Homo sapiens: one gene and its partners. The protein of the gene in region 2 interacts with the protein of the main gene of each other region in a pairwise test. Each region holds a gene or a part of one and is shown on either strand. Other genes may lie near its edges.

What was found.
Region 1: the proteins of DNAJC5 (region 2) and PPFIA4 come close enough for resonance energy transfer, tested with the Homo sapiens proteins (one study listed by BioGRID).
Region 3: the proteins of DNAJC5 (region 2) and NECAP1 come close enough for resonance energy transfer, tested with the Homo sapiens proteins (one study listed by BioGRID).
Region 4: the proteins of DNAJC5 (region 2) and CADPS come close enough for resonance energy transfer, tested with the Homo sapiens proteins (one study listed by BioGRID).

The regions. Positions count from the first base shown.
Region 1 is NC_000001.11:203,043,478-203,050,524, forward strand, and holds part of PPFIA4 (liprin-alpha-4), read left to right. Parts: coding exon 1-21; intron 22-453; coding exon 454-618; intron 619-901; coding exon 902-976; intron 977-1,218; coding exon 1,219-1,308; intron 1,309-1,890; coding exon 1,891-2,082; intron 2,083-2,363; coding exon 2,364-2,510; intron 2,511-2,770; coding exon 2,771-2,905; intron 2,906-4,749; coding exon 4,750-4,833; intron 4,834-5,105; coding exon 5,106-5,237; intron 5,238-5,440; coding exon 5,441-5,503; intron 5,504-6,198; coding exon 6,199-6,290; intron 6,291-7,047. UniProt on the Homo sapiens protein: May regulate the disassembly of focal adhesions. May localize receptor-like tyrosine phosphatases type 2A at specific sites on the plasma membrane, possibly regulating their interaction with the extracellular environment and their association with substrates.
Region 2 is NC_000020.11:63,933,113-63,936,545, forward strand, and holds the end of DNAJC5 (dnaJ homolog subfamily C member 5), read left to right. Parts: 3' UTR 1-2,899; downstream 2,900-3,433. UniProt on the Homo sapiens protein: Acts as a general chaperone in regulated exocytosis. Acts as a co-chaperone for the SNARE protein SNAP-25. Involved in the calcium-mediated control of a late stage of exocytosis. May have an important role in presynaptic function.
Region 3 is NC_000012.12:8,078,242-8,085,316, forward strand, and holds the start of NECAP1 (adaptin ear-binding coat-associated protein 1), read left to right. Parts: upstream 1-4,032; 5' UTR 4,033-4,047; coding exon 4,048-4,142; intron 4,143-7,075. UniProt on the Homo sapiens protein: Involved in endocytosis.
Region 4 is NC_000003.12:62,872,417-62,879,585, reverse strand, and holds the start of CADPS (calcium-dependent secretion activator 1), read left to right. Parts: upstream 1-4,169; 5' UTR 4,170-4,556; coding exon 4,557-4,997; intron 4,998-7,169.

The DNA of each region.
Region 1 (7,047 bases), on a different chromosome or scaffold from region 2:
GCAGAACGGAATAACACACGGGTAAGTGGGGATGACCTTGTGTCGCGCGCGCGCACGTGTGTGTGTGTGTGTATGGGGGTGTGTTGTGAACACCTTGACCAAGAGAGCAGGCAAGAGTGGGGCCAGGCACAGTCCTAGCTCAAGCCCCATCCTTCCCTCTTCCTGTCTCCCATCCTGGGGTGAGAGTTACATCGTTTAACCACCAGTGCTGGGCTCTCCACCTGTAGTTGCTGGTTCACAGAAAGCTCAGGGTCCTGGGGAGAGGCCGGGGCAGTCACCTTGAGTAGTATCAGTTGGGGCGGGAGCTCTGTGCCCATTTGGAAGTATTTCAGTGTTTTCACAGTGGGGTGGCTGTAACTCATGTCTGCTCGGGGATCACATGGACCCTGCTTGTAGCCCCTGGGGCACATGCTTACAGCCCTCCCTCTCACCCTCCCCTGCTCTCCCTGCCAGCTGCTTCTGGAACATCTGGAGTGCCTGGTGTCCCGCCATGAACGGTCACTGCGGATGACTGTGGTGAAGCGCCAGGCCCAGTCACCTTCGGGGGTCTCCAGTGAGGTGGAGGTGCTGAAGGCCCTCAAGTCACTGTTTGAGCACCACAAGGCCCTGGATGAGAAGGTGCCCACCTGCCCGCCAGCCCCCACATCCAGCCAGGCTGCCCTGGAGCCTCCCATGTATCCCTTCTCTGAGATTTCCACATCCGGTATTTAGGGAGCACTGGCTCCCTCCAAACATTGTCTTAACTTCAAGGTCCTCCTGTTAGGCTCCCTCCTGCAAATGTGCTGCTTAGTAGGCCCTTCACTGTCCTCATGCTCAGTGGTGGTAGACCAAGCCCAGTCTCTTCCAGCCTGACTCAAGTGGGGTCCCCCTTTCTTCCTCCATCTCCCCTTACCTCGAGCAGGTGCGAGAGCGGCTCCGGGCAGCGCTGGAGCGAGTCACCACCTTGGAGGAGCAGCTGGCAGGTGCCCACCAGCAGGTAATCTGCCTGCTCACCCTCAGTCTGCAGCTCCTGGAAGTCCAGGCTGGTTCACCCCTGTGCCCTACTCTGTTTCTTGTCAGATTTCTCCCTGCCATGGCTGGAAGCTGCTAGGCAAGGCTAGGCTGAGCACCTCTTTCTAGGAGACATTTTTTAACTAAGACAGGGGCTTTGGAAGGGTCTGGAATGTATGGGAGGTTCTCTTCTCTTTGACTCATTGCCCTGGGGCTTGTGCCCTACAGGTGTCTGCCCTGCAGCAGGGGGCAGGGGTGCGGGATGGAGCGGCAGAAGAGGAGGGGACTGTGGAGCTGGGGCCGAAACGCCTGTGGAAGGTAGGTCATGGAGAGCTGTGTAGCAGGGGTCATGTGTTCCCCAAGGTGGGAGGTTGGAGGCCCGGCTCTGCCTTAGTTCAGTAGACTAACTGCTTGAATTAAATTTGAGGCTTTCTCTGATATTCCCCCTTCTCTTTTCTTCTTCTCCCTACCCCATCTGCAATGAAATCTGTAGATTTTTATTTTAGTGCCCAACACATGCTGGGCACATCATACGCTTGTCTGCTTGAATTGTTAGGCACCATCTGCCTCATGTGGCAGCATCAGGCAAGATTCCTTCTCTGTCTGAACCTTTGTTCCCCCAGTCACGCCCCTTTCTGGGTTACAAGAGGCTGGCATAGCAGATAAAACTAGAAACTTGTTTTCAAGAGAGACAAAGGATAGCAAGGTGTTTGGTCATTGTCAGGAGTGACCTCCTGGGGCCCAGAGGGAGGCAGTTGTAGCCAGAGGAGTGCTGTGATGTTGGGGGCAGAGCCTTGACCTGCTCTGGGTGTGCTGTTCCTCCTTCCACCCCTGGGATAGGGGAGTGGGGTGGGTGGGATGCTGCTGTGACTCACAGAGCTACTGTCCCTATCCCTGGAGGAGGATACGGGCCGGGTAGAGGAGCTGCAGGAGCTCCTGGAGAAGCAGAACTTTGAGTTGAGCCAGGCCCGGGAGCGACTGGTCACCCTAACAACAACCGTGACTGAACTCGAGGAGGACCTGGGCACGGCCCGCCGGGACCTCATCAAGTCGGAGGAGCTGAGCAGCAAGCATCAGCGGGACCTCCGGGAGGTGCGTGAGGGCGCAGGCCTGCTCTGTGACCTCATTGTGGAGCGTGTGGAGGGAGAGCCAGGCAAAGGCTCTGGGGCGTGAGACTGAACACCTGCCTCCTTGCCTGGCTCCATTGTTGGGGGGCGGTCATGGAAGGGGTGGGCCAAAGCCAGAAACTGACAGGAGAGTGTAGCTCATGCCCCTTAATGGGTTCCAATCAGCCAGGTGTGGGTGGGGAGGTGTAGACAGGATGGGGGCAAGGAAAGGCTGGTTACCGTCCTTCTTGTCCCCTCTTCTCCCAGGCTCTGGCCCAGAAGGAGGACATGGAAGAGCGGATTACTACACTGGAGAAGCGCTACCTGGCTGCTCAGCGTGAGGCAACATCCATCCATGACCTCAATGACAAGCTGGAGAATGAGCTGGCCAACAAGGAGTCCCTGCACCGCCAGGTACCTCCTCAGGGTGGGGTGGGGATGGGCATTGTACTTAGCCCTGGAGGTGTCCTCGTGAACCTACTGGTGATGGCTGAGGAGCCCCTGGGGTCCTGCAGGTCACCCTTTGAAAGGGGAAGTCAGGCGTCTCGGGCAGCCAACAACCAAGATTGTCCCTTGCTGCTTCTGACCTGTCATCTGCTCTCTGCTGAGGCTGGGGTGGGGGTGGGGGCTTCAGTGCTCCCTTTTGAATCACTTCACCACCCCCACATTGCTAGTGTGAGGAGAAGGCCCGACACCTGCAGGAGCTGCTGGAGGTGGCAGAGCAGAAGCTGCAGCAGACGATGCGCAAGGCAGAGACGCTGCCAGAGGTGGAGGCTGAGCTGGCCCAGAGAATTGCAGCCCTCACCAAGGCAAGTGGGCCAGGGGCCTGGGATCTGCCTCTGTCCCCCATGTTCTGAGCTCTCAGGGAGCCAGGCAGGGAAGGGAGCGCGTGGGAGGCGCACTGGGCCAGGAGCCAGAAAACTGCTTCCCGCCGTGTGATTCCAGGGAGCACACTGCCTTGTGCCTGTCAGTTGGAAGAGTAATCCCTGTCCTCATCACCCTGCAGGGATGTGACAGTCTCATAAGAAGGGGTGTAAAAGTACTTGAAGGAGAAGAAGCTATGTTGATGCAAAGTGTTTTTCTTTTTCTTTTTTTTTTTTTTTAATCCTCTACACCGTCGTGGTGAACACTTTCTTTCACTTGGGGCTGGAGCAGAAAGATTAGGACTTTCATCTCTGGAAAGGTGAAACCTTAGAAGAGAAATGGTATATATATCCCTGAAGGGCAAAGGGGTGAGAGTTAGGTTGAGTACATCTTTGATTGCCAAATTGAAGCTTCTAGATCTAGGGACTGCTCCTGGTTGTTTGAAGGCTGCAGTTTTAGGATGAAGAAAAAAGAATACAATTTTATTTAATGGATACTTTATGAAGTAGTAATTCCTGAGAGGTGTGCTGGCTGAAAACATAATAGGTTCTGGAAGAGCCAGGTAAATGCCTGGATTTAGACATGCAGGGGTTAATCAAAATAATTTAGGAGCGTTTTCAGCTGGTCAGCCTCATATGGGATCTTCGAACCCGTGGCGAGAAGAAAACCGGTGTTTAGGAAGCACCAGGCACAGTGCTCGGAAGGGAGAGGCTGGCCGGCCAGTGTGCAGCTCAGCTGCTTCGAGGACGGAACCTGCAGCCTGGCTGTGTCCCAGCAGACCCAGGACCAAGACTGCTTCTGCCACTGACTGTCTCTGCGACCTGGGAAAAGTCATCCCCTCCCTTAACTGGGCCTCAGTGTCCTTATCACTATGTTGGAGTTAGACGGGATGGTCTCGGAGGTCTTTCCAGCCTCGAGGAATGAAGGATTGGGTTGAAATCACAGCAGAGGATGTTATGTGTGGGCTGCTGAGCAGTCAGCCTTAGTGTCTCCCAAAGCTGACATGAAGGCACGGGCTGAAATGATTAATACAGTCAAGTGAGTCATCGCAGGAGGAGTTTAAGGAAGGATTTCCTGACTATAAGAGATGTGGCTTTCTAGAATATCTTGCCAGCAGAGACAGTAGGGTCTCCATCTCTGGACATCCATGACTGGAAAGGGAGACTACCCCACCTGGGCTGGTTTAACAGCAGAGCCGTAACCATGCGGGGCTAACATTTGTTGAGTGCTTACTATGTTCTCAGTGTTCGCCTTGGATTATTTCATTTAGTCTTTGTGATGGTCCAGTGGGCCTGGGTGCTATTATTACCCACATTTTACAGTTGTGGAAACGAAGGCACATAGAGGTTTGGTAACTTGTCTAAGGTCACACAGGTGGTAAGAGGGAGCCAGGATTTGAACCCAGGCGGTGTGGCATGAGCCCATGCTCTTCAGTGTGGTTCTATCCATCTGGAGGCGTAGAGGTTTATGGTAGCTCATGCTTTCAAGTGGAGCTTTTTCTGGAAGCATGGGGATTATTTACAGTCTCTTGAACTGCTAGCTTCAGGATGTTTTAAGGCTAGGCCTGAGCGAGGAGGAGGCAGGGGAGACCTGGCAGGTATTGAAGTACCTGGGAAGAAAGGCAATGGGGATGGTGGTCCTGCTCCAAGATGATAAGTGGAGGCTGAGCGTCACTGGTACTGGGGGCCATGATCCCCAGGGCCACCCTGGCACCAGGGTGCAGGGGATGCGGGGCCTGAGCAGGAAGAACAGAGATCTGCGGGCTGCACCGACCCATCCCTGCCCCTAGGCTGAAGAACGGCATGGCAACATTGAGGAGCACCTGCGGCAGCTGGAGGGACAGCTGGAGGAGAAGAACCAGGAGCTGGCACGGGTGAGGGCACCAGGCCGGGCCCTCAGGCCCCCTCCTTCCCGCAGGACAGGCTCCCAGGGCGGTCTGTGGAAGGGGCACGGAGGAAGGGCCTGGCCAGGGACACAGCCACAGAGAGTGGGAGGAGGCTGGCAGGTGAAGGGGGAGGTGGTCAGGAGACTGGAGAGAGTGGCTCCCAGAGGATGAGAAGAGGACAGGGGAGGGAGTCAAACCCCAGCAGGAGAGGGTGGTCCTCCCTGGGAGGGCGGCCTGGTGCGAGGCAGACGGCTGTGCAGGTGCGCCAGCGGGAAAAGATGAATGAGGACCACAACAAGCGGCTGTCGGACACAGTGGACCGGCTGCTCAGCGAGTCCAACGAGCGTCTGCAGCTCCACCTGAAGGAGCGCATGGCTGCCCTGGAGGAGAAGGTGCCCAGAGGGGCGGGGTTGGGATGCGAGAGGTTAGTGCTGGGTGTGGGGCGGGGGGAGGCGGGACTGTGATGGGCGCAGGCGGGGTCTCAATGGGGTGGGTGGCCAGCCTGGAGAGGTGGGGCTGAGACTGCACACCCAGAGGCTCAGGTCTGGAATGGGAGAGGAAGGCAGGGGCCTGGCTCACAGCTGCTCTCCCCCAGAACACGTTGATCCAGGAGTTGGAGAGCTCCCAGCGGCAGATTGAGGAGCAGCACCACCACAAGGTACCCGGCTGCGGCCAGCCCCGCCCAGCCTGGGAGGGCCGGGTTGCAGGGAGGAAAGGACACCCTGCTTTTAACGCTGCTGCTCTGATACCTGGCAGTGTTAGTGCATATGTTAGTGCACTACATACATTATTCCGTGATTTCTCACTAGAGCCCATCATGGTAGGTGCATTACTGCCCACAGGGAAAGAAGAAACTGAGGCCAGAAGCATAGGGCAGAGGTGGACAGCAGAGAGGCAGGGCCCAGTGAGGGGCTCCACCCCAGGATTTGGAGGGAGCTTCAAACCCTGGTGCAGCCAGAGCCTGGTGATTCTGGGAGGATTTGCCTCCGTCCTGGCCTCGGCAATGTCTGTGAGGTCTGAGGGGGTGCTGGGGCCCTCTGCTGCCCAGCCTCATCTGCTGTGCATCTGTGCAGTAGTGAGGGGTCGGCAGGCCTAGGCTAGCAGAGCCCTCCCCAGACAGACCCCCTCCTGGCCCTGCCCCTGCCCATCCTTCCACTCACTCTCTGGTTGGACCTCTTCTCTTTTGGTGTCATCTGTGGGCCTGGCCTGGGGCCCCTGGCTTTGGACTTTGCAGTACATTCTTCAGCTTCTCCCCAACTCTGCTGTCCTCTTTGTCCCTCTCTGACTCCCACCCTCCCTCTCTGCCCCTCCCTGGCCCCCACTCCCGCCCCCACCCCGGGTCTGCTGGCACAGGGCCGCCTGTCTGAAGAGATTGAGAAGCTGCGCCAAGAGGTGGACCAGCTGAAGGGCCGAGGGGGGCCGTTTGTGGATGGCGTCCACTCCAGGTACTGCAGCGCCAGAGGCTGGGCATGCCAGGACGGGGTCCTGATGGACCGTGAGGAAGGAGACTTCCTTCCAACAAAAGACTGCCCAGGACCTCAGGGTCCTCCTCCTGTTCAGGGTGGGACACTGAGGCTCAGATAACTTGGTCAGAGTCACCCAGCTTACTTGGGCAGTTTGGGAGGGAACACCTGTCCTCCGAGGGCTGCTGAGAGGCGAGTCATCAGACAGCCAGTGCTCTGTCCCCGCTGTGGTAGGACATAGGCCATGATTTCTGCTTCCTTGACAGAGGGCACACCCCTGAGAGAGGCCTGCACATCCCTTGCTTAGCCATGTCCTACAGGGCCCACTGGTAGGGAGAGCCATTCACTCCAGTTCTCTTGAGAGTCAAGGACCACCTGAGTTCAGGCAGCGGGCAGAAAGGCAGCAGGAGAGATTGGAATGAAGCATCAGAAACTTCCTTACTGGAAGTTGAGACGCCATGGCAATCCTATGGACTTGGCATCCCTTTTCTTGAAACCATTGTGAGAGATGGAGCTTATCTCCTAATGCTTGAATTAGGCCCATGTTTAGGGAACCTCGGGATTTCCCCCACATTTTGTGGAGCGATGGGTATTGAATTCAGACCTCGAGCCTGTCCTCAGTACCCAGGCCAGAGAGGTGGGGTGAAGACAGGGGAGACTGAAATGGATGGTGCCACTCAAGGTTCATGGCTCTTGGCTGTTTTCTCTCCAAACCAAAGTCTCTTAGATCAGAACCCTT
Region 2 (3,433 bases):
TCCCTGTAGAGATAAAGCTGAGGAGGAGGCTGTGTGTGATGGCTCTGGCTCGGACCAACCAGATGAGCCTCCTGAAGCCCCCTTCCCTGCCTGCCTGCTGACCCGTGGCCCCAGCTCACTCATTGCCCTCAGCAGCCACCCGAGGCTGTGCAGAAGGGTAGGTTCAGGTTGACCAGGAAGCTGCCAAAAGGGACATGGATATGAGGATACATCTGGACGTGCTTAGGAACAGGGTGCTGGTTGAGGGCCCCCAGCTGACCCCTACTGCAGATCCGCATGTGGACCATGAGCCGGCTGCCAGCACTAGGTCCTGGGCAGCTTTGTTTGTCCCACTTTTCTTTGTTTCTTCTCACTAAAATGATCACGAAGACCTTTGACAAGAGGAGAGATATGCACTGTGATATTAAATTAGAAATAATTTATCAAAATCAGACCTCTCCTAAAAGAATAAGAAATTCATTGTTTGGCCCATCCTGAAAGGTGAGGTGGCGAGACAGTGGGGTGCCTCCGTGCCGCTTCGTGCAGCAGCAAGTTCAGCCTGAGATGCTGGCTGTACTCAGCCTTTGCAATTTTTGTAGATGTAGCTTAGGACGTGAGTTATTTTTCCGCAGACTGGCCAAGAGCCAGGTTCTAAGCTTGGACCTAAGGTAGAAAGCTGCCCATCGGGGGCCCTAGCTCAGCCCCACCAGGCCCTCTGTTGGGCCTGCACACAGCTCTGTGGCTAGAACACTCCAAGGCCCTTCGGTACCCATCAGAGTGGGCCCCTTGCCAGGTGGCTTTTCAGTTACAGAGTCCAGTGGACCATTTTGTAGAACCATGCAGCTCCCTGCGGAAGGTGGGGTAGGGTGGGAAAGAGGAGCAGGTCTGGAGGTTTGTGGAACCCAGTCCCCTGCAGAATCTGTAAAACCTAATAAATCATGGTTGTGGCCATTCTCACGGTGGTGATTGTGATTAGACGACCCCCGGGAAGCCCAGACACTCGGGGCCTGGAGTTCCTCCCCCTGCCTGACCTAGAAGCAGAACCGTTTTCAGCGCTCTGCCCTGTTGGCTTTAAGGCTTTGTCTTAATTTAAGGAAAAAGATCCTCCCGGGTTTTATTTCTCTCTTTCTTGAGTGGACTGTTTCCCTATAATTAAAAGAGGTGGTGAGTCCTGGGGCAGCTTCCGCGCCTCCCTGTCCACGTGCTAACAGATCAGGACGCCCCCAGCACCCCTGCCTGCTTTTGCTGGTGGCAGTGACGGGACCCCGACTCCTCACTCTCGGGCCGCAGACAATGCTGTGAGCAAGTGTGGCCATGGGCACAGAATGTCCCTTTGGACGCCGCTGCTGGGGGCTGCCAGGGGCCCTCTGGGGTCGTGCTTTGAGGCCCGTCCGGTTCACGAGGGGGTCCGGGCAGCACTGACTGCTTCCGACCTGCAGGAGGCGTAGGAGCGGCCCTGCGGGCCCTTTCACGGCAGCTGCTGCTGTATAGATTTGTCTCCACTCAGTGACGTGGGATTTTTTTGTCTTCCTTTTGGCTTTATTTTTAAACTGCTTTAGATATTACTGCTCAGTGTTTGTGAACTTTCCTAGTTCTCTATGTTGTTAGTGCAGCCAGCACCCAGTGGGGACCTACTAGAAAAAGGAACTGGCATGCACACGTGCCCAGCAGGAAAAGCTTCGTCTTCACGTCGGCTGCTGCCATCCAGAAGAGGCCCTGGAGCCTCACGCCGTCGAGGCTGCTCTCAGGCGTTCTGTTCCGGGCGAGGCTTGTGCTGCAAGGAAGGGCACCAGCATGCAGGCTGCCACTGGAGGGTCCGGGTGCTGCGGGCAGAGTTCAGCGCTTGTCCACCCTCCCTTAGCTCTGACTCAGTGCATCCTACTGTGGGGACATCTCGTGAGGGGACACGAAATGACTGATCTCACCCTTTCCCAGTATTCAGAGCTGTGAACCCCTGTGGCGCAGGACTGGCCTGTGTCTGTTATTTTGGTTGTAAATCATTCTCCTGTGGAATTGGCAAAAGCTACATTTTTACTGTCCTTACCAGCAACAGTTTGCGTCGTCACATGCTGTGAGTGTGGGCTGTGGTGTGTCCGTGTGTGTACATATGTGTATATGTATATATCACGCAGCAGGAGTGTCATTCATGCTGCTGTCCCCTGGTGAAGTGACAAGTACAATTAAAGGTGGCTCTGAAATGGCCTCTGGTTTCTTGGGAGTCGGGCAGGGACCTGCAGGAGGCTTTCCCAGCAGGTGCACAGAAGGAAGCGCTGAGCCCACTGTGTGCAGAGGGTGTGTGCCCAGGGCACTGCCACGGCCCCCACCAGCATTGGCCTCTGCTCTGCAGGGTGGGGTGCCCATCCTGGGGGCTGTGTGTCATGCTCACCTGACCCAGGTGTGTGTCCCGGTGTGAAATCGAGGAGGGGACTGGAAGCCCTTCCCTGCCTTGAAACATGAAAGCTGATTTTCTGAGCAGCAGATACGGTCAGTGGCAAAGCTGCATCTGAAGGGCGGCCTGGGAAGGGGCCCTGTGCTGGCCCCGGGTCCGCCCCAGAGGAGTCCACACAGCACCACCTCCAGAAGGGGCTGGGCCCGGGGTCCTGCAGGCGGCACCTTTTGGTAGAGTTTGTTTCCCTGGAAAATGGGGAAAATGTTTCAAGCCAGGTGAGGGGGGAAGTTAACACTGAAATATGTATTGTTTTTAAAAATCAAATGCACACGCATGGAAGCTGCTTGTCCATGCACTGGTTTTGTCACTGGCGTCCTGGAATCCGACCGTGTTGGGGTGCAGGCGCTGTCAGACTCCGGCTGATCCTGGCTCGAGCACACACATCTAAGGGCCAGGCTGGTTCCGCATGGTGATCTCCGTCTTGTATGTCTGAATGTTGGCCTAAAATAAAGATTACTGTTGTAAAATAAATGTTTTCACTGCGGACCCCACGTATGTCTTACTCGCTAGTCCCGCAGATCCCTGGTTTTGGAGAGCAGCAGCTGATCTCAGCCCTCCACACCCCTTGCGGCTGGAACCTTGCTTCCCTCCTGCCTGGTCCAGATGTGGATAAATGCCCCCTCCTCTTGATTGTGTTTTCACCTCCGTTTTCTAAATACCAAGACTGGAGCAAAGAGGCCAAGCGTGGTGGCTCATGCCTATAATCCCAGCACTTTGGGAGGCCAGTGTGGGAGGATTGCTTTGAGCCCAGGAGTTCAAGACCAACCTGGGCAACAGTGAGATCGTGTCTCTACAAAAAAGAGTTTAAAATTATCTGGGTGTAGCCGTGCCTGAGGTCCCAGCTCGTCAGGAGGGAAATCACTTGAGCATGGGAAGTCCACGCTACAGTGAGCTGTGGTCACACCACCGAACTCCAGCCTGGGTGACAGAGGGAGATCCTGTCAACAAACTAACAAAAACTCAGAATAACGTAACAAACATCTTGAAATCCTCTATTCTGACTTA
Region 3 (7,075 bases), on a different chromosome or scaffold from region 2:
ATTGATAGCAGTACCCTGAGCAATGATAAGTCAGAATTTAATCTGTGATAAATACCTTTTTGTGTGTGCGTAAAGAAGAGCTGGGAAATATGTTACTGGTAGGGCTAAGTTAAGAAAACCATAAGTTATTTTCATGTTTAAATGACATCTAAAAGTGACCAAGATTTGAGATGGGTAAGGCCTCCATGAATTTCAACAATGCATTTAAAAAAACAAGCTTTTGTTAAACTTGGTTAAATCATATACTTACAAAGCCACATACAAGAACACTAGCTTGACTTAGCACAGTCTACTCAGCCCAGAACCTGTGAGCTGTGTAGCTACTACCCCCCGGTGGTGGGCAAAGATAAGTTCGAGACAAGACATTTTTAATTTTTTTATTTTAGTTTATTTTTTTTTGATACGGAGTCTCATTCAGTAGCCCAGGCTGGAGTGCAGTGGCATGATCTTGACTCACTGCAACCTCCGTCTCCTGGGTTCAAGCAATTCTCCTGCCTTAGCCTCCCAAGTAGCTGGCATTACAGGCATGCACCACTATGACCAGCTAGTTTTTGTATTTTCAGTAGAGACAGGGTTTCAACATGTTAGCCAGGCTGGTCTTGAACTCCTGACCTCAAGTGATCTGCCTGCCTCAGCCTCCCAAGGTGCTGAGGTTACAGGCGTGAGCCACTGTGCCGGCCCAAGACATTTTTAATTATTTTGATTGGGAAAGAACAAATCATCCCTGTTAAGGCAGGCTGAAATGATCATTCATTTAGCAAATAAACATACAGAGTTCTTACTATAGTCTGAAAACTGTGCTAGATACTGGGAAAACACAAACCTGTTTCTTTCCCTTGGAAAACAGAGATGCCAACAAGCAGTTGAATGCAATGTGCTAAGAACTAAAACAGCTGTACAAATGTTGTGGGAGCATAGAGGAGGCAGTTACCAGTTCTATTTAGAGAAGTTGAGGAAAACTTCTGAGATAAATTGATATTTAGATTAGATCTAAAGGCATCTTACCAAGGAATGAACGGGAAGTGCATTTCAGTCTGGACAAATATGTTCAGCATGAATAAAAATGGCATGTATGGAAAATTATGGCAATGTGATCAGTTAAGCTAGAGAAGACATCGTGGGTGAGAGTGAGGAAGACTGTATTTTTTTCTGTTTCTGTTGAGATGAAGCAAGAGAAGGGAAATTTAAATTTATATAAAGAAAAAACATGGTTAAGTAAGGGTTTTTTTTTTTTTTTTTTTTTAGGTGAAAGGACTTGAATATACTTACATGGTGAGGGAAAGGGGTGAATGGAAAATGAGTTTTAAGATACAGGAAAGAAAGGAGATAACTGATTAACCAGGTCCCTGAGGAGATTGGTCCCTGAGGAGAATCCAGGGCACACACAAGTGGATAGGAGAAAGAATAGATGAAGATGCAGATAGGAGTATGAATAGGGTGTCATTAAGTTGAGAGAGTTCACACAAACTTTATTTTCTTAGGGAAGTAGTAAGATGTTTTACCTGTCAAGAAAGAAAAAGAGAAGACTTAGAGTTGAAGGCCTGAAAGGGCAGCAAAATTTGGAACAACCATTAAAGGGAATGAAAATAAAAACTAGCAATGGCAAATCTGGGTGTTAAGGGCAAAGCTGAGACTCAAACCCATAAACTTTTAGGGACACCAATCTTTATAATTGTGTGATTTGCTTTTGGAGAATGATGGAGGGAGATGGTTGGAATATATAAGACTGGAGTCTTTTGGGTTGGCTGTGATGGAAAGACAAAGAGGAAAGGAAACTTAAGGATGCTGGCAAGAGAACTGTTGAAACAAGGAGATGGGAGGAATAAAGAGAAGGCTAACAATGTGCAGAACATGAAGAAGAACAGGTGAGGTAGAAAAGAGAGGTAAAGATAGTTAGAATTTATGTCAAGAGATTGTATGGCTAGGAAGAGTTAACTATATGGGCTTTGAAATCTCTAAAAGATTTGGGAGAAGAGGAAGAGTATAAACTAGTAAGAAGGTGAACCAGAAGCCAGAATCCTCCAAAAATGATTGCCAGTGATAACACAGAACAGAGAAAAAAAAAGAGGTACAATGTGGTGTAGTCATATGACCTAGGCTTCAGATGAGATCATAGGGTCAGAAATAAGGAACAACAAGTAATAAACCACTTTTCTGTCTTTATTTTTCTTTTAACATGTATTCAGTGACAATAATAGCTATATAAATCTTAAACAACAGAGAAATATATGGAGGAGAAAATAAGTTTCTTTCCCCCACTTAGCCTTATATCCTTTGAAAGCCTTCTCAATGCATTTACATGCATGCATATATAATTTTGGGGTGTTTCGACAAAAGTTGATAATGCTGTATGTTTTTTGCAGTTGGCTTTAAAAAATCTTGGATCTCTTTCAATGGCTAACCCTTTAGTTCAAAACATCTCATAGTAATAGATATACCATTAACCATTTCCCATTGATAGATGGTCATTTTGTTTCCATTTTTTTCACTATTACAAACAATGCTGTAGTATTATTGTACATACTTTTTTGTGCATATAAGGATTTCTCTACAATATTTATTAGTGAAACTGCTAAATTGAAGATTACGTCCAATTAATATTTTGATAAATTCTGTTAATTTCCCTTTTAAAAATGCCGTGCCAATTTACATTCCTGCCAACAGTGTATGAGATTAGACTGTTCCTCACGTCCTCGCCAGGGATAAATGTGGTAATTCTTTTTGAAATTTAAGATATCACTTTCCAAGGTGGAGCAGACAAATTAGAGGCAGGTTTGCTTTTTTTTTTTTTCTCATTAAACTTTTTTAATGGGTCTCAAAATTCTGTGACAAATTTTTGGATGTTTCCATTAAAAAGTACTGATTTAAAAAACTAATAACTTAAAACTGCCACACGCAAAAAAGAAAACCAGTGGTCCACAAAACATTCTCCTTTCCTTCTGAAGAAGAAAACCAGTGGTCCACAAAACATTCTCCTTTCCTTCTGAAGGTTTTACGATGCATTGTTTTCATTAACCAGTCTTTTACTACTGAACTTAAATGGCCAGTTGAAACAAACAGTTCTGAGACCGTTCTTCCACCACTGATTAAGAGTGGGGTGGCAGGTATTAGGGATGATATTCATCTAGCCTTCTGAGCTTTCTGGGCAGACTTGGTGACCTTGCCAGCTCCAGCAGCGGTGAAGACTGCTGCTGTTGTAATGAGGCAGGCTTGAGTTTCTGTCTCAGTTTTGCCACTTGCTATCTGTACTGTCAGGGTGTTGTGGTTAAGTTTACCTTTGGGGCGCAGAAAAAGCATATTTATGGTGAGAGTTCGGTAGCATTTATCATTATAATAGAACTGGGAGCTAATATAGGCCATTAGATAGTTCATTATGCTTCCGATTTTATCAGGAATTGGGTTGATCCCACGTATAGTCTATTTAACAGGATCAAATTTTCCAAAAAGATAATCGGAATACACGCCGAAAGTGTGGCAAAACATTTTAACAGGTGTCGTCCTGAAAAATCGGAGATAAAGAGTGTAAGGCACTAAATCAAGTTGGGTGTTTTCAGCGTTTAGACTCTGGAGAGTTGAAATCCACGGTGTCTATGACCAGATCATACATCATTCTCTGCAGGTACCTCGTCTGGGACTACCGGCTGGAGGTTGCCTCTTTTCTGCCAGGAGACTACAGTTAGGAAGTGACTCCTGTAAGAAAATCCGTCACGATTCAATATGGTCCTCGTCCTCGTAGGACACTCCAGGCACCTGCCTAGAGTAAGATGGCGCTTTTCGTAAGCACCTCTCCAGGACAGAGATTTCCATAACGAGAGTCACGCACTTGCAGGCCATCTTTGCCATTATCCAAGACGGTGAGCCGTGCAGCCTCATCGTTTCCAGGTTTCAATATGGCTCCCCGCGTCACCGAAAAGGTTAATCTCAGAAACTAACTTGAACTCGCGCGGAAGTGACGCAACAGAAGTTGTCGCGCTTTGCATCTCCGCCTCCCGTGCTCCGCCTCCGGTCTTACGTTTCGCCCCCGGCAGCGCCGACAGCGGACCCAAGATGGCGACCGAGTTGGAGTACGAGTCTGTGCTGTGTGTGAAGCCAGACGTCAGCGTCTACCGGATTCCGCCCCGGGCCTCCAACCGCGGTTACAGGTACTAACCCCGAGGCGCTGCCGCACACGCGTACTCTGTCGCAGATGACAGCTTCCTTCTCAGCTAGCACGCTGTCCGTCCCTGCCACTACTACCTCTGTATTGTCACCTTGCTAGCCTCCCTACCTGGGTTGTCATCTCCCTGACCACCTGCTCCATCTCCACTCTGGACTGTCATCACCATATTTCTGCCGTTTTTTTTTTTGTTTTGTTTTTTATTAAATTACCACTCTGCGTTATTCCACTCTGCCTCTCCCGTAATCCCCTGGGGCACCCATCTGCTCCCCATCATGCACTTTCAGTCGTGCTTGCTCCATTGCCAGTCCCCTTTCATTCGCTCTTCCCTGCGTCCTTCAGCTTATCATCCTCATCCTTTCTCTCTCTCTCTCTCTCACACACACACACACACACACACACACACACACACACACACACCTTTCCAGTTCCCCATGCACATTTATGGGTAATCGTGTTGCTTGCCACTCTGGATTATCTGATTTATTTTTTGTACTGTTGTCAATTTCGTCACCAACTGTCATCATCCACCATTCGGTTTTTCCTTCAGCAGTTTTACCAGTGAGCAAAGGTTATGATCATAAGCTTTACAACGGTTGTTCATTCTGTTTCTTCTCATTGTATTTTCTTGATGATTATATAGTATTTTCTGTCTTCCTTCCCTACCTCCCTTCTTAACCTCTCCTACACCTTTTCCCTCCAAAGTTGAGGCAGCATTTTTCTCTGTTGGGCCTAACTACCTACCTTGTAATCCAATGACTGTGAGGTTCTGAGGATGCTATAGGACATTATGTAGTTGAAAGACAGTTCACTGGGCTTCATGTTAAACCATATGAGTGTGAGCCCTTTCCAAGCCTCAATTTTCTCATCTGTAAAATAGAAAAAAAAACCTGTTAGTGATGATACCTGCGCTCTTATAATGTGCTTAACAAGGGTTTTTGGGAGAGTAAAATTAAATCATATAATGGATGTGAAAGAATGTAGGAAATGCAATAAAGCAGTTACAAATACTATTTGTTTGTTCTTTTTTTTTTTTTTTTTTTTTTTTTTGAGATGTAGTCTCACTTTGTTGCCCAGGCCGGAGCGCAATGGCTCAATCTCAGCTCACTGCAACCTCCGCCTCCTGGGTTCAAGCGATTCTCCTGCTTCAGCTTCCTGAATAGTTGGGATTACACGCATGCACCACCACACCTGGCTAATTTTTGTATTTTGAGTAGAGATGGGGTTTCACCAAGTTGGCCAGGCTGGTCTTGAACTCCTGACCTTGTGATCTGCCCACCTTGGCCTCCCATAGTACTGGGATTACAGGCGTGACACCACGCCCAGCCGTCGTTTTTTTTTTTTTTTTTTTTTGTTAGAGAGGCAGGGTCTCGTTCTATCATCCAGGCTGGAGTGCAAGTGGTGCAATCACAGCTCACGGCAGCTGTGTACTCCTGGGCACAAGGGATCCTCCTACCTCAGCCTCCCAAGTTGCTAGGGCTACAGGCATTGCCTCACAATGCCTGGCTAATTTTTAAATTTTTTTGTGTAGACAGGATCTTGATATATTTCCCAGGCTGGTCTCGAACTCCTGGCCTTAAGTGATTCTCCTGCCACAGCCTCCCAAAGTGTTGAAATTACAGGTGTGGGCCACTGCACCTGGCCAAGATACTGTTCTTATTCTTCTCTCTGACCCACATCATCATTGTGATTTTTCCTCCTGGCATTTATCATTACCTTGGCTGAAAAGTTACCCTCTCCTTATGTCTGTTATTTTGCCCCTTACTGGCGTTTTATTCATCATGAATCAATATTTTTATGCTTGCTGACCTGTGCGCTGGGCCCTGTGGGTTGCACCTTTGGCAAAGAGGTAGCAGTTCTGTTTTTAATAAGCTTTTAGTTGGACCCCAAACTGACCCTAAGTAGAAATCAACATGCTTTTAGATGGTAGTTACAGGTACTATATGAGTCACTTAAACATCACCTTCTTTGGGAGGCCCTATGTGACCCTTCCATTCTGGTTTAGATATGCACCCTGTGTGCTTCCATAGCACCTTTTTCTTTTTCTTTTTTACTTTAAGTTCTGGGATACATGTGCAGAATGTGCAGGTTTGTTACATAGGTATGCATGTGCCATGGTGGTTTGCTGCACCTATCAACCTGTCATCCTCGCCCCTCCCCCGAGAGGCCCCAGTGTGTGTTGTTCCCCTCCCTGTGCCCATGCGTTCTCACTGTTCAACTCCCACTTGTGAGTGAGAACATGTGGTGTTTGGTTTTCTGTTCCTGCATAGCACTTTATTCTTATCTCTATTCCAGGGCTCTTCATTTTGTATTGTAATGGATTACAGTGGATTGTACAATGGATTGTTTAGTCTCCTTTTTTCTCCAGGCTAGACTGTGAACAACTTGAGATCTTTTTAACTTTATATTCCCAGGGTCTAGCACAGTATCTGGTACACTTTGGGCACCCTGTAAATGTTGACTGAAAGAAGAAATCAGTAGATTACACAGAGAAACCTAATCACATAAAGTGGCATTGATTGAACTGTTAAATAAGGTCAAATAGCTCATTACTTCCAACTTTAGGAGTTAAGACTCCTAAAGGATATGATACATATTGAAGTGGGATTATATTCTTTTTCTTGAAGTTTTTTTTTTTTTGAGATGGAGTCTGGCTGTGTTGCCCAGGCTGGAGTGCGCTGGCGCAATCTCAGCTCGCCACAACCTCCGCCTCCCCGGTTCAAGTGATTTTCCTGCCTCAGCCTCCCAAGTAGCTGGGACTACAGGCACGTGCCACTATGCCCAGCTAATTTTTGTATATTTAGTAGAGACGGGGTTTCACTGTGTTGGCCAGGCTGGTCTCAAACTCTTGACCTCGTGATCCGCCTGCCTTGGCCTCCCAAAGTGCTGGGATTACAGGCGTGAGCCACCGCACCCGGC
Region 4 (7,169 bases), on a different chromosome or scaffold from region 2:
TTAGGCTACTTAGGCAGATTATCTACGTAATATTTTATGATGTGGAAACAGCCACTTGGGTACTTTTTTTCCCTTTTATTTGATGGTATGTCACTGTATTTCAGAGTCAATGCAAAATGACAAAACCCTCCATCTTGTCCATGTAAATACCAGTATAAACTGCATTTCAATCCATACCACATCTAGTTCTCACTTCTATTAAAAGAAATTGTGTACACAAGAAACATGATTACTCTTGTGAATAGTTGGCTTTCAGAATTTGACTTAAATATTTATTGTAAAATGTGTTGTCCCACTTTTCTTTTTCATCTTCTTAAGTAATGAGAGTGATTTTCCAAGACCAATTCTTGCAAGTAATATTATTTATCATTCCAAAACATGTTTTGTTGCCTAGAGTGAAAGATACTTTGGTGTGGCTCGATTTTTATTATTTTTAGCCTTATGATGATCCTTTAATTTCATCCTAACCTGCTTCATTTTACTTTAGTAAGAATCATCATATGATATAAAGAGTAATGATGAAAAGTAGGTTTCTCAAACAAAATAGACCATTTCTAATCCCTGACAATACTATCTAAAACCAGACAGGCATCAAGTAAACAAATAAGCAACTCTTCTATTTTTCAGGATCTAGTTCTGAATTATTTGATTTCTTTTATGTTCGTTTCCTTCTAATTATTTGTGTCCAATTTCTTGTCATCTCATTTATGGCACATCCCTCTCAGATCACTGGAAAAAAAATGTAAAGCTAAAATTGGTTGAAAATTGCTTTTTATATATCATCTATTTTTGTTGTCATTCCAGGGGAAGTGAGTACTATTATCCCCCATTTTACAGATGAGGATACTGAATGTGAATCATTAGTTCGTTCAGGATAGCTCTACTATTAAGTGGTAGAGGCAGAACTGTCTGGGTTGAGAGGCCAAGCATTTAACTTGACCTAAGGCACACTGTAAGATCAAATTAACCCATTTTTGGAGCTTGCAAGCTAGTCTTATAATTTAAACAAAATTAAATATTGATTAGATGAGATGATCACATCTAGATAATATGAAGTTTATTGAGATTTTTTAAATATTTAACTTAGCTAAATTATTTTTTAGTAACAAACCCACAAAAGCATCAAAGTGGGCATTAAACTTAGTTATATTTGATGGAAATGTGTTTTATGTGTGACATAAAGAAGAGGTTTGTTTTTACTAAACTATCAATTGCCAGCGAGTCAGATATTTCCTCATACTTGTGGCCTTTGACACATCGAGGCAAACACTTCATAGAAGGATGGAGATCATCTAGGTTTAGATTAGGAAATCCTGGCTTAGTGTCTCAGTCATTTCCATTTTCTGCAGACTTTGCTTTTGGGGGTAGGATTACAAAATTCAACGGTATAGCTTCTACTTTCATGATATGGTCTCCAGATAGTTGATTAAAATGTATTCCATCATCTTGAGGTTATCCAAGTTTTCTACAGAGCAGAACTGGATGTGGGGCAAACATGCAAGCACATAAAATAGCTTAAGGACATAAATTCTTAGGTGTATAAGAATCTATGGTGGAATTCTACTTTTAAAAATAAGAACACAAATATTTACAAGAGGTAGACAAAAGTTAAGAGACTTTGCATGTGTTCTGTGGTCATCTTTTCCCCTGTTTATCAAAATGTACATTTAGGGAAGTCACAATCCCTACTTCAGATGCCTCATAAGTTCTGGTTGGCATATCTTATCTTCAATACTAACAAATATTTAGAATATCTCCAAGTTGACTTTCGGCTAAGGTAAGAGATGTCTTCGAAAGGGTGTATATTTTGAAAGACAGCAATGTTCACCATTTGAAAAAAATATGGAAATATTTTTGGTAAAATCTATGTAAGCCTCTTTGATTGAATACTCTTGGGGGGGATTGAGAAGATTGTTAGATTTATGTAAGCAATGTTATGTTTAACACCCAAATCATAGGTTTATGTAATTTACAAAAGGTGGATATTAAGTTTCTATATTAATGACTATACCTGGAAAAAACCCACATAATCCCAAAGGAGTTTGTAAAAATATGAAACAAAACTTTATTACAGCAATTGTGAAATTCCAAGTGTTTTTGTAGATGGAATTCATGGCCACTTTGCCACCAATGTCTGATGTGACAGTATTTAAATGCCTAAAGAGACCTTAGAAGAAATATTTAATCTGTGAATGACCTGTTTCTGGCCTTCAACAGCATCTCCTCCCCAAATCATCACATACTCCTTAATTTGTGTCCTAAACATGGTCCCTTTATTTCGCCAAATGGATTATAATTTCAGCTCTTTCCTCCTCCTGTCACCTACCCATACCCTGTTTCCATAACACTCTTTAACCTTACTTGATCCCTTGCCCTATTACTCTGGCATTGCAAACCACTTATTCCACTTGCAATACCTTCTCTTTTCACCACCCATGTATATGGTATGTTCCCTTAAGATTTTATTCTCTTCTTTGAGAAATATATGATTCCCTTCACTTCAAGTTGCTTCATTCACGCAAGCTTTTTGCAGTTTACTGACCTGGATTTGTTGATATGTTGCCTCAGAATAAGTGCTGTCAATCTTTTTCACATGTTTATGTTGTAGCTCCCAAAGGAGATTATAGACTCTTTAAGAGAATGCCTTCTAAAAATTCTATCTATCCCAAGCACCTAGAACAATGTGTTACTTCATTAAAAGGTGCTGGATAAAGGTTGTTGATCAATTGATTGGCTTACTATATTTTCTGTTCCAGGAAAACCAATACCACATGATTTGAACATCCTTTACTTCTTGAGAAGAATTAAAAAGTGAGGCTGCAAAACTGTCACAATCCCCGCACTGCTCAATTTTTTTTAAATTTTGTGTTGTTACCAAATGTGTGATGGCCACAAAAGTTGTGTCCTTGAGGTATGGTGGTGAAGTCAAATATAAGCCATCCAAGTACTTAACTCAAAAGATCAAACAGAATTGTTGAGGTTAATGTGAAACCAGTTGTTCTGAGTTCATCTGCAGGTCTCAAACAGGTCACTTTACTATCAAAGCTAGTAAAACTCATGGTAAATTATAAAATACGTAAAGACAAAAGTGATTTAAACTTTAAACTCATGCTACACTATTAAAATCACTCCCACGAGTATCTACAGATAATTAGAGAACTAGAAAATACATAAATATAGGCGATGAAGTGGAGAGGTCTCTAGATAGCCTAAGTTCTGAAGGTGGCTGGCTGGTGGTTTGTTTTCATCCATCTGCGTGCGGGTCGCAGGTTACATTCAGCACGTTGGCCAGCTCCCTCGTTTACCAGGTTTACTGGCCTAAGTGAAAGGAGCACGGGGAAGGCAGGCACCATCTGCTGCTTTGTATTAATAGTTTACCCGAGAGGCAGGGGTGAACAGAGTGCGACAGTCGACGCATTAGATGTTGACGCCGCTGAGTTCTTAGGGTGTCTTTGTCTGATCGCGGGGTCCCCAAGCCTCCACCGAGCCAGAATGGAGGGAGGGTTAAGCAACCAGAAACCCTTCTATTTTTCTGGTAGGCTCACCTCAGCAGAAAGCATTCCCAGGTCTTGGGAACTGAAGAAGATTCATCATAGATTTTGGGGGTGGGGGTAGGCAAGGTCGGGGGCGCTACATAAATGGTTGAGTTGCCTGGTCGAAACACCAATCCATTCAAAATTTGATTCACTTTTATTTTAATTAGACTGGGCGCATGCGGAATAAGTTGCTGGAATCAGAGTTTACACAGGTGGGACAAACACGCTGCCCAGCCCCCACGCCCCCCACGCCCCAGGTGTAAAGAAGCCTGGGGAAAGGAGATGGACCCTTTCTTTCCCGTATAAGATCTCACGGACTTCCTCCTCCTAAGTAAGACCTCTCGATTTAGCGTCTCCAAACAGCCCGCTCGGCTGGTTTCTGGATTTCTCCCTCCCCCAAGAACTTTTTGTCCGCGGGAGGGGAAAAGGGGTTGAGGCAATGAGAGCCAGATATCAACAAAAAAATTATCCACGAAGCCGGCAGGGGAGGAGGGTGGCAAGGTATTGGGGTCAGAAGTACTGAGGCTCTGAGGACGCTCCGCGCTCTCCCCCCTCCAGCCCTCTGCAGCAGCCCTTTACGCCGCGGACACGGGAGAGTTAAGCCAATAAACACGTAAGCGCCGCTCCCTCCCCAATCGGCAAGATGCCTCTTCGGCTCTTGGCTGCATCGACAGCTTGCAACACTCGGCATCTTTTCTGGAGGCGCCTCCTTCAGCAGCCGCAGATGGCATCCGGCTGCGGGCTCGGGGCTCGCAATTGATTCTCCCCCTTGCCCACCTCGAGTCCACGGACGCACCTCTCCCTTCCCCTCCTCCCTTCGCGCTTCTGGGTCTGAGCCCAGCTCGCGACCGCCGGGCAGAGGATCAGTCGCGGCGGCCGAGGCTGAGCAGCAGCGCTCTCGCTCCCTGACCTGGGGAGAAGCGCCCACCCGGGAGAGCTGATCCCCGGCTGCCTCCAGCGCCCCCCACCTTTTGCACTCCAAGCCGGGGGCTCCAGAGACCCCGCTCCCCAGGCGCCACTATGCTGGACCCTTCGTCCAGCGAAGAAGAATCGGATGAGATCGTGGAGGAGGAGAGCGGCAAGGAGGTGCTCGGCTCGGCCCCGTCCGGCGCGCGCCTGTCTCCCAGCCGTACCAGCGAGGGCTCGGCCGGCAGCGCCGGGCTGGGGGGCGGCGGCGCCGGCGCCGGAGCCGGGGTGGGTGCAGGCGGCGGCGGGGGCAGCGGCGCGAGCAGCGGCGGCGGGGCCGGGGGGCTGCAACCCAGCAGCCGCGCTGGCGGCGGCCGGCCCTCCAGCCCCAGCCCGTCGGTGGTGAGCGAGAAGGAGAAGGAAGAGTTGGAGCGGCTGCAGAAAGAGGAGGAGGAGAGGAAGAAGAGGCTGCAGCTGTATGTGTTCGTGATGCGCTGCATCGCCTACCCCTTTAATGCCAAGCAGCCCACCGACATGGCTCGCCGGCAGCAGAAGGTAGGTGCGCCTGGGAGGCCCAGGGAGCAGCACCCGGACGTCGCCAGGCGGGCGGGGTGAACAATGGGAGCTGGCGGCGCAGCTGGCGAGGAGGAGCAGGAGAGGTGGAGACCGCGCCCTGGGGAAAGGGCTACGAGGCCCCCTCCCAGCGGCCGGGCTCGCCCAGGCCCAGCCCAACCCAGCCTGGAGCGCTCCTGGAGCTGACTGGGACCGGCGAGGGCCGCGGAGCGCAGCGCCGCTTGCTCGAGCCCCCCCAGCCCGGGAGCGTTGGTGAGCGAGGCAGGCAGGTCCCGCTTTGTGGACCGAGAGGCTCGGGGAGTGATTTGCTGCCCGCGGCGCCCAGAGAGGCCTTGCTCGCTTGCAGGGCTCCCAGCGCTCTCCAGCGGCGGGCGGCTGCGCTCAACTCCGGGCCCGCCCTCCTGGGCGTGCGTTCGGCGGGCGGGGGCAACGGCAGGTGGGGGCGCCGAGGTGGAGGGAGAAGAGCGTCTTGGAGCAGCGCTCCGCTCGCTGGGGCAGAGAGCAACCGCAGGGGCAGGCGGGAGAAAGCAAGCCCAGAAGGCGAAGCTTCCCGTGACTCTGCGAAGGGCACCCTCCTCTCCCTGCCCGGGTCAGCTGATCACCGACTAGCGTCGCCAAAGTGTCCTCGGGCACTGCTTCCTTATGGCTGGAGTTCTCACCAGTCCCCCTGACCCTTCCTCACTGACCCCAGAGCAGGGGCACGCCCTCTGGTCCTTCCGTCCGGGTCAGCCCCTCCGCCGTCCTGTCTTTGACCCTATTCTCCTCTTCCCAAGGTGACTTCGCCGCCACCTTCTGGCTCGCCTGGGTCCTCCAAGCCCTGCCACTGCTGCCTTGATAAAGTACAGCTGCAAAAAGCTTCGCAATCTGAGGCATCAAAAGCTTTTTCTGTCTGAGGCTGGGGCAAGGCTGACATAGCTCTGGGCTGCCTTTGATGTTAAAAAAAAAAAAAAAAAGGCGCCTATTTCTATCAGCTGTTCTTTAGCTGGAGAAAGGGATGAGGGGTACTGCAAGATGAGGGGCAGTGGCGGGGGGTGGGGACAGAAGAAAAGCAGGCAGGAACCCAGCTGGAGTGAGTTAGTGAAGAAAGTCAGCGTTCTGTTCTCTTTTAAATAAATTTGCAGCACTTGAGCTATCAAAAAAGCCAGTCAAGCCCCACACAGAGGCAGTGTGAGGCCAGTCCTAACCCCATCAAGACTGTGAGACTAGTGTCTGAAAATAGTGAATCTTTCAGTTGCTGCCATTTAAGAACAAATTACATGTTGCTGTAGTAGCATTAGGTTTTCCGTATTTATCCACCCTTACCTTGAGTTAGCACAGATTTCTCTGTTTGTTTTGCTTACATGTGTACACACACCACCCAGCACTGATGATTTATTTCAGCCATCACGAGCTTGGATATCAGTTTCATTAAAAGATAAAACTGATTTCCAGGGTGAGAGACAGGAGGTGGGTTACACACAAGACTCTCCATCTTTATCTGTGGCCCCTTGTTTTTTCAATTCGTATTTTTGACTGCAGTAGAGCAAAAGTATCCTCAGAGAAGTAAAAGTTTTTGGGATATTATTTTAAGGCTGGATGTTGAGTCCACGGGGCCTAATAGTTCACATTTCAGTTTGGAATTCCTATTGTAATTGTGCCTTTACAGCATAGGAACTTCAACCTCCAAAATCTATCCCAGTAATAACAGCACCAGCCAAAAATATTCCATTCCTTTGACAATGAAAACTGTGACTTTAAGTGTTAGGTCGAAAGGGGTGGGGGAGATGTCTAGAGACATTTATCAAAGTCTCTAGAGGTCTGTCCTTTAAATAGTTGCTTAAGTCCAGAGCTAGCATGGAGAAAGAAATCCCACAGAGACACAGTTCTTCTAAACAGAAACTTCAGTTACTTTAGAGATTATTATAAGGCCAGATTTTTCTGATCTGATTGTATGCTTTACCTGAATCCACTCAAAGCTGTGGTTTTGAGGGGCATGCTGTTTGCATTTTTACACGGGAGCTTAACCTCAGAGAGACTCCAGGACAGATTGATAACACTGACATTTGGTCAAACTATTCTTAGTTATCACAGCAAACTGTTGCTAAATACATATCCCAGTGAAGCTATCCCAGAGCTTTTGGCTATACTGGGAAGCTAAATTTAAACAACAACAAA